2 linked regions of the Homo sapiens genome follow. The protein of the gene in region 1 purifies or fractionates together with the protein of each later gene. This does not show direct contact. Each region holds a gene or a part of one and is shown on either strand. Other genes may lie near its edges.

Region 1 (7,022 bases):
GGGAGGCTAGAGGCACACTTACTGAACTGGGAACAGTGACCCCGTGACTGAGGCCCAAAGATGGAATTGCTAGTGGGAGGTGTGACTGGAGCAGGAAGATGACAGAACTGTCTGGGGTGGAGGGGTGGGGTGGGCTGATGGCTGGACAGCGTCCATGATTGTTCTCTCACTTCCCTCTCTGTCCAGAACCCCGAGCAGTCTGCGGATGAAGATGCTGAGAAAAATGAGGAGGATTCAGAAGGTGAGCCAAAGAACCTTTGTTGCAAATAGGAAGTCCAGAGTTAGTGTTGCCCTTCGCCTGGTTTCTTGGCTGCCCTCCAGTCTGGCTTTTCAACATTCAGGATCTTTTTCTCCCTCCATTACCACTAGGCTCTTCAGATGAGGATGAGGATGAGGACGGAGTCAGTGCTGCAACTTTCTTGAAGAAGAAATCAGAAGCTCCTTCTGGGGAGAGTCGCAAGTTCCTCAAAAAGATGGATGTAAGAGCCAGGGTTAGATGGATGATTTCCTGCCAGAGGTAGTTCCTGAGTCCCTGGGGGAAAAAGACAAGACTCAAACCCCTAGGGTTGGGAGGGGTGGAATTTAGTGGAGTTGAGAACAAGCTTCCTCTTACATCAGAGCAGTGGGCAAACAGGGATCTGGGCCCAGCTCTGCCAGGGGAAGCTGTGTGTGTTCCTGCGGCCAAATTGCAGCATCACTCTGGGACTTGATGGTGAGTCCCAGCCCTTGGTATCTTGATTCCATGAGTAGCTGCTCTTGTTCTACTCATGTAAATAAATCTCGAACATGCGTTAGTAAGGAGGAGACACCAGTCAATCTCCCTGTCTTCTTGCTGATCCTCTTTTCTTCCCTCTAAGGATGAAGATGAGGACTCAGAAGATTCCGAAGATGATGAAGACTGGGACACAGGTTCCACATCTTCCGATTCCGACTCAGAGGAGGAAGAAGGGAAACAAACCGCGCTGGCCTCAAGATTTCTTAAAAAGTAAGGAAAGTAGTGGGACCTAGGGTTACACTGGAACTGGTGGAAAGCTCTTAATTGTCTGGAAGGTTATTGATTCTTCCATGGAGTCCTTTTAGGTTGGAGCAGCCAACTGTTAGCATTTTACAGTAGGATCAGAGAGTCAAGTACATTAGTTGGCTAAAGTCACGAAGCTAATGTGTCCTAAAGATGAGAATTGAAGGCTCCAGAGTCCAAATATTTACCCACAGCCTTACTCACTGCGTGTGGATTGGGTGCAAATCTCACTTTGGCACCCGATACCTGTGTGACATTGGACAAACTACTTAGCCTGTCTAATCTTCAGTTTTCTCATCTGTAAAATAAGGCAGGGAACCCTCCCTTCCAGAATAGCTGCAGGAATACAGGGAGGTGTGATGTAAGAAAGTAGTTCATCTAGGACTGACGTGTGGTGAGCCCTCAGTGTGCGTTGCTACTGTGTTACCCTTCCTGATAACTTCTTAGTACACATACAGCATACAGACTGCCGCAAGTGTTCATGACCTTTACTGGGACAGTCAGAATAGGGGAGGATCCCAGTGTGGATTCTGTCTCCCAGCCTTTATCAGCTGTACAACATTGTATAAGTTACTTGACCTTAAGTCTTAGTTTCTCCCTTTGAAGTAAAAGTGATACCTGCTCTTTTGTATCCCATGGGAGTGAAATCTCAAGCTCACTAAAAATAGTGCTTTTATTTATTTTTTCTTAGCCAGTTTGCACAAACTACAGATAAAAAGTGCTTTTTTTGAGACAGGGTCTCACTCTTCCCAGGCTGGAGTGTAGTGATGCAATCTTGGCTCACTGCAACCACAACCTCTTGGGCTCAGGTGATCTTCCCACCTCAGGCTCCTGGGTAGCTGGGACTACAGGTACACTCCAGTACATCCGGCTAATTCTTGTGTTTTTAATACAGACAAGATTTCACCATGTTACCCATGCTGATCTTGAACTCCTGGGCTTAAGCGATCCTCCCGCCTCAGCCTCCCAAAGTGCTGGGGTTATAGGCGTGAGCCACTGCACCCAGACAAATAGTACCCTTTTAATGGGAAGATTATTGCTCTCAAGGTTGCTTTCCTGTGTTTAAAAGTTGTGGTCGTGCTGCTTTAGGGAGGTAGTGAGTTTCCAGCCCTCTAGAGGTCTAGAGAGGCTGAACAACTTACTTGGTGGGCATTTTGTTGAGAAGGCCTTTTTTGTCCAGTGCTTCAGGGAACACTGGTCAAGGTCTGGGCCACATTGTCTATCACACCCCTTCTTGGAGGGTTTACAACCACCTCTGGAAAGTTCCATGAGAATAAATATACCTAACTTTGTTTTATTAACCATCTCAAAAACTTGCTTGATCATGAAACTCGTTTTTTTAACCTGTTGACATCTTACAGAACTATCAGCGTTACTATTGGTTCAGGTCTTTTATATCTACTGTACTTTGTGTTTTTGTCTTTGAATAATTGTGTATTGAAGTCTCCCATTGTGTGGACTCCGGTGTGTGATGTGCACTGCACATGTGTGTTACACAAAGGCTCCTGTCTGAGGGAGCAAATGGGGCCTAAAATTAAACTTAAGACATCAAGGCTGGGCACGGTGGCTTACGCCTGTAATCCCAGCACTTTGGGAGGCCGAGGCGGGCAGATCACGAAGTCAGGAGATCGAGACCATCCTGGCTAACACAGTGAAACCCAGTCTCTACTAAAAATACAAAAAATTAGCCAGACATGGTGGCAGGCGCCTGTAGTCCCAGCTACTCGGAAAGCTGAGGCAGGAGAATCGCTTGAACTGGGAGGCAGAGGTTGCAGTGAGCCGAGATCGTGCCACTGCACTCCAGTCTGGGCGACAGAGCAAGACTCTGTCTCAGAAAACGAAACAAAACAAAAAAAACTCTAAGACTATAAAGCTATACTTTTATAAATACAGACTCAAAAGTTCTTAACAACATAGTAGAAAACCAAACACAGCAACATACAATAAGGATTATATGGGAGCACCCCCTCCTTGCCTGTAGGGGGATGGAGGATGGGTGGGCTCATCTCCCAAAAAAGTTTTAAAAAAAAATTTAATAACAAGGAGGATTTATCCCAATAATAGAAGGATGTTTTAATATGAAAATCAACTAATATACTATATCAATAGAATAACAGACAAAAGCCGTAGAGTCATCTCAGCAGATGCAAAAAAAAGCATTTGAAAAAAATCCTAATATTCTTTCATGATAAAAGACTGAAGCTAGGAATAGAAGGGAGCTTCCCTCTACCTGATAAAGGATGTTTATGAAAAGGACGTTTCCTGTCCTTTTATTTTTAACTCTGCCATGCTGTATGATTAAGAGTGTTTCTTGGCTGGGCGTGGTGGCTCACGCCTGTAATCCCAGCACTTTGGGAGGCGGAGGCAGGCAAATCACAAGGTCAGGAGTTCGAGACCAGCCTGGCCAACATGGCGAAACCCCATCTCTACTAAAAATACAAAAAAATTAGCCCGGTGTGGTGGCCTGCGCCTGTAGTCCCAGCTACTCATGAGGCTAAGGCAGGAGAATTGCTTGAACCCGGGAGGCGGAGGTTGCAGTGTGCCGAGATCGCGCCATTGCACTTCAGCTTTGGGCAACAGAGCAAGACTCCGTCTCAGGAAAAAAAAAAAAAAAAAAAAAAAAGAGTGTCTCTTAAGCACAGCTAGGTTTTTGGTTTGTTTTTTTTTTAATCTCATAAAATCTCTGCTTTTTTTTTCTTTTATTGTGATACATAACATTTCCCATTTTAACCATTTTCAGGTATACAAATCAGTGGCATTTAGTACGTTCACATTGTGCAATGACCGCCAGAACTTGATCTCTGCTTCTCTGGCAATTTAGTTCATTTACGTTTATTATAGTTATTTACATATATATGATGGTTATTTATATATGTGTCTACATAATTAGTTTTTATCAAGATGGGGTCTTGCCCTGTTGCCCAGGATGGTCTCGAACTCCTGGGCTCGAGTAACCCTTCTGCCTGGGCCTCCTAAAGTGCTGGGATTACAGGCGTGAGCCACTGCGCCCAGCCTATTGTGGTTATCAATGCATTTATTCTTACCATTTTATGGTATCTTATACTTTCTGTTTATCCTCTTTATTTTAAATTTTGTAATAGCTTTATTGAGGTGTACATGACATACAATAACTGCACTTGTTTAAAGTTTTTTTTTTTTTTTTTTTTTTTTGAGACAGAGTCTTGCACTGTCGCCCAGGCTGGAGTGCAGTGGCGCAATCTCGGCTCACTGCAAGCTCCACCTCCCGGGTTCACACCATTCTCCTGCCTCAGCCTCCTGAGTAGCTGGGACTACAGCCACCCGCCACCACGCCTGGCTAATTTTTTGTACTTTTAGTAGAGACAGGGTTTCACCATGTTAGCCAGGATGGTCTCGATCTCCTGACCTCGTGATCCACCCGCCTCGGCCTTCCACTAAGTGCTGGGATTACAGGCATGAGCCACCGCACCCAGCCTTAAAGTTAAATTTAATAAGTTGTGACATATGTTTACACCCATAGAACTCACCACAATCAAAACATAATATCCTAAAAATTTCACACCTAAACATTTCCACCTTCCCCTTTGTAATACTTCTCCCTGCCTCAGTTTCCTCACCCTATCCCTGGGCAACCACTAATTTGCTTTCTGTCACTAGGTAAGTTAGCATTTTCTAGAATTTTATGTAAATGGAATCAACGGTATATAATTTGGAGGGGGTAGTTTCTTTAATCATAATTATTTTGAAATTCATTCTGTCTTCTAAAGATTGGGCATCTCTAATTCCAAAGTCTGAAACTTCTGGAGCACCATAAGTGGACAATTCCACATCTGACCTCATGTGACAGGTTGCAGTCAAAACTTTGTTTCATGCACAAAATTATTTAAAATACTATGTAAAATTGCCATCAGGCTGTTTGTATAAGGTGTAGATGAAACACACAAATTTCATAGTTAGACTTGGAGCCCTTCCCAAGATACCCCATTATATATATGCAATTATTTGAAATTTGAAACACTTCTGGTTCTAAGCATTTCAGATAAGGGATATTCAGCCTGTATTTTATTTTTCTTTTATTTGTGTGTTTTTTGTTTTTGTTTTTGAGAAGGAGTCTCACTGTGTTGCCCCGGCTGGAATGCAGCGGTGCAATCCTGGCCCACTGCAACCTCTGCCTCCTGGGTTCAAGTGATTCTCAGGCCTCAGCCTCCTGGGTAGCTGGGACTACACGTGAGCACCACCACGCCCAGCTAATTTTTATATTTTTAGTAGAGATGAGGTTTCAGCATGTTGGCCAGGCTGGTCTTGAACTCCTGACCTTAGATGATTCGCTCGCCTCAGCCTCCCAGAGTACTGGGATTACAGGCATGAGCCACCACACCTAGCCTACATGTATTTTCTCATCCTCTTTTTTTTTTCCCCGTTTCTAGTTATATATATTTTCTTATTATTCATTTTGTTTTTTTCTGCTGGTTTGGGAGTTAGACGTGCTATGCTTTTAGAGGTTATTCTTGAATTTTTTTTTTTTTTTTTTTGAGACACTAGCCTGTTGCCGAGGCTAGAATGCAGTGAGTGGCGCAATCTCGGCTCACTGCAAGCTCCGCCTCCCGGGTTCACGCCATTCTCCTGCCTCAGCCTCCTGAGTAGCTGGGACTACAGGCACCTGCCACCATGCCCAGCTAAATTTTTTTGTATTTTTAGTAGAGACGGGGTTTCACTGTGTTAGCCAGGATGGTCTCGATCTCCTGACCTCGTGATCTGCCCACCTCAGCCTCCCAAAGTGCTGGAATTACAGGCGTGAACCACCGCACCCAGCCAAATTTTTTTTTGTTAACCTGTAAACTAACTTGTATACCTAATCAGAATAGTCTAAAATTAGTTGAATCAATGTTCTGAGGAAAACCCTTGAGAAAATAAAGTTAGAATTTCAAGTGTCAGAATCTTTTTGACATTGAGAGTTTGTGGCTTTGTAGTGTAGAAGAATAATTCACAGACACTATTTCACTTGTGTAACAAGGGAGACAGATTTTCAGATTAATTTCCAACCGAGCAAAAGCAGGATTTATATAGGAGAAAGAGGAACAAGGAGAGAGGGCAAAACCACAGAACAGTGGATTCTGTTTGCCCGTTTTTCTGTGTAAACTCTGATATTAACTCTCCTTGAGTATGCCACCCAGGGTTGGTGGATGCTCTAGAAAACACGATAGGCCCTCTGCCAGTAAGGGTTTTCAGCAACTCCAGATTCAGCCAGTCTAAATATACCCTTTCCATCATCAGCATTTCTCAGCCTTCATCTTTTGGTCAAAACAAGCTTGTAAAGGAGTGGGTTTATTCTCATGAGCTTCAGCCTCTTTGATGTGGGATAAGGCCATCTGTTGTCTTATGGTGATCTGAAGGTATTAGGGGGAAGTTCATCTATACCTGATGTCATGATTGACCTGTGAACTCTTTTTCTTTTTTTCTTTTTTTAGATGGAGTCTTGCTCTGTTGCCCAGGCTGGAGTGCAGTGGTGCAATCTCATCTCACTGCAACCTCCGCCTCCCTGGTTCAAGCAGTTCTCCTCAGCCTCCCAAGTAGCTGGGATTACAGGCACGTGCCACCACGCCTGGCTAATTTTTTGTATTTTTAGTAGAGACGGGGTTTCGCCGTGTTAGCCAGGATGGTCTCGATCTCCTTATCTCTTGATTGCCTGCCTCGGCTTCCCAAAGTGCTGGGATTACAGGCGTGAGCCACTGCGCCCAGCGACCTGTGAACTCTTACAGAGCTGCTGTCTACTTCTAAGAGTTACCTGATTCTGGAGGCGTTTTTTTGTTTTTGTTTTTGTTTTTTAAGTGAACCCCAGGATCTCTAGTGAGACTGAATGTCCGAGTTAGGATCCTAAGCAAGGGTATACATCTAGGGCTTTCCATCAGTAGTTGTGGTTGGGAAGGCATGGGAAAATGGTGTGGTCCTCTGCAGTGTAGTTAGGCCTGACTTCCGTTGGTGTCTCTCAATAATGAGTTTTTAGTCTCTTAACTATGTATTAAGT
Region 2 (7,149 bases), on another chromosome or scaffold:
GCAGTGGCACAACCTCGGCTCACTGCAGCCTCTGCCTCCTGGGCTCAAGTGATCCTCCTGCCTCAGCCTCCTGAGTAGCTGGGATTACAGGCGCCTGCGGCCACACCCGGCTAAATTTTGTATTTTTAGTAGAGATAGGGTTTCACCATGTTGGCCAGGCTAGTCTTGAACTCCTGACCTCAAGTGATCCTCCTGCCTCACTCTCCCAAAGTGCTGGGATTACCGGTGGGAGCCACTGTGCCTCGCTCTCTAAATAAACAATTTAAAAAATTAGCCGGGCACAGTGGTGCACGCCTATAGTCTCAACTACTCAGGAGGAGGCGGCGGGAGGATCACGAGCCTGGGAGTTTGAGGCTGCAGTGAGCCATGATTGCGCCACTGTGCTCCCGGCCTGGGTGACAGAGTGAGACCTTGTCTCAAAAACAAAAAGAAAAAAATCTACCCCTGGAAGCACAACACAGGCCACGCTGCAGGTCAGCCTGGGAGCCTCATCCGGCCATCTCTGCTGCCAGGGTTGGTGCGGTGCCTCAGGTTTCCCACTCCTTCACCTCAGAGGCTCAGAAATAGACCAGCGGAGGCCAGGCCTGCTGGCTCATGCCTGTAGCACTTTGGGAGGCAGAGTTGGGAGAACTGCTTGAGCCCAGGAGTTGAAGACCAGACTGAGCAACATAGTGAGACCCCATCTCTACAGAAAAACAAAAAGGTAGCCCGATGTGGTGGTGTGGATCTGTACTACCAGATACTCAGGAAGCTAAGGTGAGCCTGTGAGACTGAAGCTACAGTGAGGTGCGACGGCACCACTGTACTCCAGCCTGGGTGACAGAGTGAGACCCTGTTAAAAAATAATAATAGGCCAGGCGCAGTGGCTCACGCCTGTAATCCCAGCACTTCGGGAGGCCAAGGCGGGCGGATCACGAGGTCAGGAGAGTGAGACCATCCTGACTAACAGGATGAAACCCGTCTCTACTAAAAATACAAAAAATTAGCCGGGTGTGGTGGCAGGCGCCTGTAGTCCCAGCTACTCGGGAGGCTGAGGCAGGAGAATTGCTTGAACCCGGGAGGTGGAGCTTGCAGTGATCCGAGATAGCACCACTGCACTCCAGCCTGGGCGACAGAGTGAGACTCCATCTCAAAAAATAAATAAATAAATAAATAAAGATAATAATAAAAACAAAAAATCGAGTAAGTTTTTGTTGTTGTTGTTGGTTTTTTTTTTTTTTTTTTTTTGAGATGGATTTTTGCTCGTTGCCCAGGCTGGAGTGAAATGGTGCAATCTCCGCTCACTACGCCCTCTGCCTCCAGGGTACAAGTGATTCTCCCGCCTCAGCCTCCTGAGTAGCTGAGATTACAGGCATGTGCCACCATGCCTGGCTAATTTTTGTATTTTTAGTAGAGATGGGGTTTCACCATGTTGTTCAGGCTGGTCTCGAACTCCTGACCTCATGTAATGCATCCGCCCACCTTGGCCTCCCAAAGTGCTGGGATTACAGGTGTGAGCCACCATGCCCGGCCATAATTTCCTTCTTCTAATAAGGACATCAATCACTGATTTAGGGTCCACTCTCGTCCACTTTGACTTCATCTTGATTACATCTGGGAAGACTGCTTCCAAACACAGTAGCCCCCCCGACCCCCAGTTTCACATTGCACTGTTTCAGTTACTTATGGTCAATTAGGTTGGAAAATATTACATAATGAAGAAAATTTGACAGAGAGAGACACAGACACACCACCAGACACCACATCCACATAACTTTTATGACAATATATTGTTATAATTGTTCTATTAGTTATTGCTGTTAATCTCTTACTGTGCCCTATTGTAAGCATGCATATGTAGAAAAAACATACTCCCAGGCGTATTGGCTCACACCTGTAATCCCAGCACTTTGGGAGGCCGAGGCAGGCGGATCACAAGGTCAGGAGATCGAGACCATCCTGGCTAATACGGTGAAACCTCGTCTCTACTAAAAAAATACAAAAAAAATCAGCCAGGCGTGGTGGCGGGCACCTGTATTCCCAGCTACTTGGGAGGCTGAGGCAAGAGAATGGCGTGAACCCGGGAGGTGGAGCTTGCAGTGAGCCGAGATCGTGCCACTGCACTCCAGCCTAGGCGACAGAGCAACACTCCGTCTAAATAAAAAAAAAAAAAATTGTCATCCCTTATTGTACAGATGCGGAAACTGAGGTGGAGGCATTAAGTGACCTGCCCAAAGATACACCACTGACAGCATGATGAGGAGTAGTCAAACCTGGTACTAGGCATGGGAAGACTCTGCTTCTTTTTCGCTCTTTTAAACACCGTTAGGATGGGATGGGTGTGGTGGCTCATGCCTATAGTCCCGGCACTTTGGGAAGCTGAGGGAGGAAGACTGCTTGAGGCCAGGAGTTTGAGACCAGCCTGGGCAACACAGTGAGATGCTATCTACAAATAAAGAAATTAGCTGGGCACGGTGGCACATACCTTCAGTCCCAAGTACTTGGCAATGTACTTAATGTCACTGAACTGTACACTAAATTGCATATTAAAATGGCTAGGCCCTGCGCGGTGGTTCACGCTTGTAATCCTGGCACTTTGGGAGGCTGAGGTGGGAGGATTCTCTTGAGGCTGGAAGGTCCCGATTGCAGCGGCGCTGTGATTATGCCACCGCACTCTAGCCTGGGCAACAGAGCGAGACCCTATCTCTGAAAACAAACAAAACAAAAAAACTATAGGATGAAATATACATAAAATTTACCTTTTTGGCATTTTATTTTATTTTTTCGAAGACAGGGTCTCGCTATGTTGCCCTGACTGGTCTTGAACTCTTGGGCTCAAGTGATCCTCCTGTCTTGGCCTCCCAAAGTACTGGGAAGAGAGGTGTGAGCCACCGCGCAGGGCCTAGCCATTTTAATATGAAGTTTAGTATACAGTTCAGTGGCATCAAGTACATTCACCATGTTGTACCATCACCACCGTCATCTCCAAAACGTTCTCATCCTCCCAAATTGAAGGTCCGTCCCCGATAAACACTCCCCACTCTCCACCCCAGCCTCTGGGTACCACCTGTTTTATTTATTTATTTAATTTTCGTAGAGATGAGGGCTGGCGTGCGGGGGGTGGTGGTGCTATGTTGGCAAGGCTGGTCTCCAACTCCTAAGCTCAAGCGATCTTCCCACCTCAGCCTCCCAAAGTGCTGGGATAACAGGCGTGATCCACTGGGTTGTTTTCTAGGATGATTAAGACATCCCCCAACCAGTGGTTGTCCTCCACTCCGGCAAAAAACAAGATAGAAGCCACATGCACCCAATGCCCGTCCCGTGAGCACCCGCGCAGAGCGAACCGCTCCGGTCCCTCCGGAGTCAGCCTCGAGCTCCACGCGGCGAGGACCCGCCCCCGCCCCCACGTGACCCGCGCTGTCCCGCGCTGAAGGCGGCGGCCTCGGATGGACTGAACCACTGTGAAAGCCCGAATGGGGGGAAACAGGCAGTGACGGCCGCTAGGGAAGGACTGGGGGTAAGCGATTAAAGAAACTTCCATACATTTTTGTATCGCGCCAGGCAGTCGTCCTTCTAGTCGTGTGGGCCCTCTCTGGCTCGCCCCGAATTCCTTTTCTATTTTGAAGTAGTCTGTCCTTTTGCTCAGTCAGTAGGCGAGTCCAAGTGACAGACACGGACAGGGGGGACTTTAGTAACGTAAACTAAACGGTTTCCCTAGCGAAAGGCTCAGACGCCCTGAGCAATCGCCTGTTGAGTCTCCACTCTTCCAGGGTATTAACTGTTGAGTTAGAGGACATTTTCCTAGCATTCCGGGTACTAAAATCATTTCTTGTCCCCGCCTTCAGCTCCACAAATAGTTCAGTCCCGCCCCGCAGCGTCCGACGGGAAAGGAAAGGGGGAGGACGCCATGTTGGACGGAACCATCTGCTGCCACACATGGGGTGGTCAATGCTCCCATGAGTTTACTGATGCACAGAAACAACCTTGCTGAATGGAATTAAGCACTTTCTTGTCACAAATATATCAGTTTGATGATTTTCGGGCGCGGTCTTGTGGATGCGAGTCCTCTCAGGGTCGTTCGTGAGGCCCCAGGGCGTGGGTGCGCCCCCCGCCCCGCGGCCTTGGTGCGGCCTCCCCGTCGCACGCACATGGCTGGGCTGTAGCCGTCGCGGCGCGCGGTGCGGCCTGGGAGAGTCGGAAGCGCGGCGGCCGCGGAGCCCTGCGAGTAGGCAGCGTTGGGCCCATGCAGGACGCGGAGAACGTGGCGGTGCCCGAGGCGGCCGAGGAGCGCGCCGAGCCCGGCCAGCAGCAGCCGGCCGCCGAGCCGCCGCCAGCCGAGGGGCTGCTGCGGCCCGCGGGGCCCGGCGCTCCGGAGGCCGCGGGGACCGAGGCCTCCAGTGAGGAGGTGGGGATCGCGGAGGCCGGGCCGGAGTCCGAGGTGAGGACCGAGCCGGCGGCCGAGGCAGAGGCGGCCTCCGGCCCGTCCGAGTCGCCCTCGCCGCCGGCCGCCGAGGAGCTGCCCGGGTCGCATGCTGAGCCCCCTGTCCCGGCACAGGGCGAGGCCCCAGGAGAGCAGGCTCGGGACGAGCGCTCCGACAGCCGGGCCCAGGCGGTGTCCGAGGACGCGGGAGGAAACGAGGGCAGAGCGGCCGAGGCCGAACCCCGGGCGCTGGAGAACGGCGACGCGGACGAGCCCTCCTTCAGCGACCCCGAGGACTTCGTGGACGACGTGAGCGAGGAAGGTGAGGGCGCCCGGGGCGGGGCTGGCGAGCGGCGCGGGAGCGTGGCTGGGGTTCCCGAGGTGGGAGATATCGTCGGGCTGTGCCACCGGTTCGTGCAGAAGTTCCAGCGAGGGTGTCCGTGTGTTCCTGAGAAGCCACCGAGGGAGGGGTTCCCGAGTGCCCTGGAAGTGTTCTGAGAGCCCAGCGCCTCCCCTTTTCTTTCCTGAAAAAGGGGACAGGGTGGAGCTCACTTCGGGAGCCAGGCATTTGCATGACAACCAGAAATCTGAGAGGGTGGGAGAGGGCACATGGGGTACTCCGTTATGGCTGGGTGTGCTGTGAGTGTAGCAGCTGGGGGTACGGCAAAAACCGAAGACCCGGTGGCAGGTTTGCGGGTCTACGTGTCCCCAGAGCTGACCAGTCAGACCTCCCAAGGTCTGGATCGGAGGAACAGCTTGTGGCAGAGCCGGTGATTTTGTCCTCCTGCCCCTCAGAATTGTCCATCTCCAGAGACTTCCTTAGTGGGACAGGCACCCTGTGAAATTCCAGTTTGATTTTTCTTTATCTCTTGCGCTAAATCTATAAAGAGAGTTATTTTTCCAGGTTTTAATATTGCCGATAACAGCCAGCTTTGCCTTCATCTCAACCTTGATTGGATTTACAGGCATATTTTTGCTTCCTGTCTCAGAGATTTTTTCCTGAAGCTACTTCTGATGAGAGCTGGTCTCATTTGTTTTTCTTTTGTTTTTTAGCTCTCTTAAGCCTTTAAGTTGGGAACACATCAGCCTCTGCAGATTGGCTAAGTTGATACTAGAGTGAGAAAAATAAAAATACCCTTGCTGATGTAGCCAGCGATACACCAGGACAATTTCGGGAATAACATGGAGTTGCCAATTTATGATTTAAACGTATTTTTAAAAGGCTATCAGAGGGCCGGGCTGGGTGGCTCACGCCTGTAATCCCAGCACTTTGGGAGGCCGAGACGGGTGGATCACGAGGTCACCATCCTGGCTAACACGGTGAAACCCCGTCTCTACTAAAAATAAAAAAAAATTAGCCGGGCGTGGTGGCGGGCACCTGGATTTCCCAGCTACTCTGGAGGCTGAGGCAGGAGAATGGTGTGAACCTGGGAGGCGGAGCTTGCAGTGAGCCGAGATCCTGCCACTGCACTCCATCCTGGGCGACAGAGCAAGACTCCGTCTCAAAAAAAAAAAAAAAAGAAAAAGAAAAAAAGGTTATCAGAAATACAAGTCAGCCAGGTGTGCTGGTGCACACCTGTAGTCTCAGGTACTTGGGAGGCTGAGGCACGAGAATCACTTTAACCCAGGAGGTGGAGGTTGCAGTGAGCCTAGATCCCACCACTGCCTGGGCGACAGAGTGAGACCCTGTCTCAAAAAGTGAAAAATTAAAAAATAAAAACGCTGTCAGTTACTGTGACCATTACTATATTACACTTTTTTTTTTCATAAAAGACATTTTAGCATGAAAAGCAGGAAGGACACCACAAACTAAAGACTTTGGGAACATCTAGTCTACGCCCCTCAGTCCTGAGGAAACTTGTCCCTGAAGGTGGAGTAGGCTGCTGAGAATTCCCAGTGGGTCTATACTGCTTGGCCCACCAGACTCTCCTGCTCAGAACAGTGTTCTTTCTAACGCTTCAATTGTTATTATGGTTTAAAAATCAAAACTTTTGGTTTAATGATTATTTTGAGCCCTTGGATATTCTGCTACTTTTTTAAAAAGCATTATTTGAGCCCATCGAATTCACAGATTTCTAATACGTAGATTACTTCTGGAATTGGGAAGAGTCAGAGGATGCTAATATGACGACAGGGTTGGCCAGGCTGGGTGACGGCTGTGGGTCCTCAGCGGGCCCACGTGGCCCTGAAGGTGCAGTGTTGGCCAGAGTGACAGGTGAGGCATCTGGTCCTGAGGACTAAGGCTCAGGAAGCCGACTTTGTCATGGCCCTCCTGGTTGTGGTAACGCAGGTTTTGTGCTTTATGAGAAGAGCTGCCCTTCAGGGTCATTGTGCAAGACCGTAGGTGACTGTATCAGTTCTTTCCAGAAGGGCCAAGTCTTCCAAGGAGCAGGCCAGAGGTGGCCTGGAGTCCCTGTCTTGCTTTATTACTTTTTTGGTACAGATTAGCTTCTCAAACTGTAATCATCCTTTCAGTTTAATGTTTCAGCTGATCCAGGATTTTAACTCTAAATGTCTTTTTTGGCTCATTAACTATTCTTTCTCTTTCTATTTGCTATTTAGTGTTGAGAATTGTTCTCTTCTGTTTTTCCTGGAGACCGCTTGGGAATCCATGAGCCACGTGTAACCGATGCTTGGGCTGAGAGTGATCAAGGCGTTGTGTCTTCATGGTGTAGTTACTTCATTTATTTCCTTCCTACGTGTGGGCAGTTTCTCCTAGACTAGACGCTTTGAGCTTGTGGGAAGGAGTA

The links.
Region 2: the proteins of EIF3C (region 1) and EIF3B purify together in Homo sapiens (affinity purification with mass spectrometry; 10 studies listed by BioGRID and IntAct, with this or other methods). This does not show direct contact.

Annotation. Positions count from the first base shown.
Region 1 is NC_000016.10:28,714,450-28,721,471, forward strand, and holds part of EIF3C (eukaryotic translation initiation factor 3 subunit C), read left to right. Parts: intron 1-186; coding exon 187-241; intron 242-369; coding exon 370-479; intron 480-857; coding exon 858-985; intron 986-3,826; exon of another isoform or gene 3,827-6,583; intron 6,584-7,022. UniProt on the Homo sapiens protein: Component of the eukaryotic translation initiation factor 3 (eIF-3) complex, which is required for several steps in the initiation of protein synthesis.
Region 2 is NC_000007.14:2,350,700-2,357,848, forward strand, and holds the start of EIF3B (eukaryotic translation initiation factor 3 subunit B), read left to right. Parts: upstream 1-4,127; 5' UTR 4,128-4,222; coding exon 4,223-4,721; intron 4,722-7,149.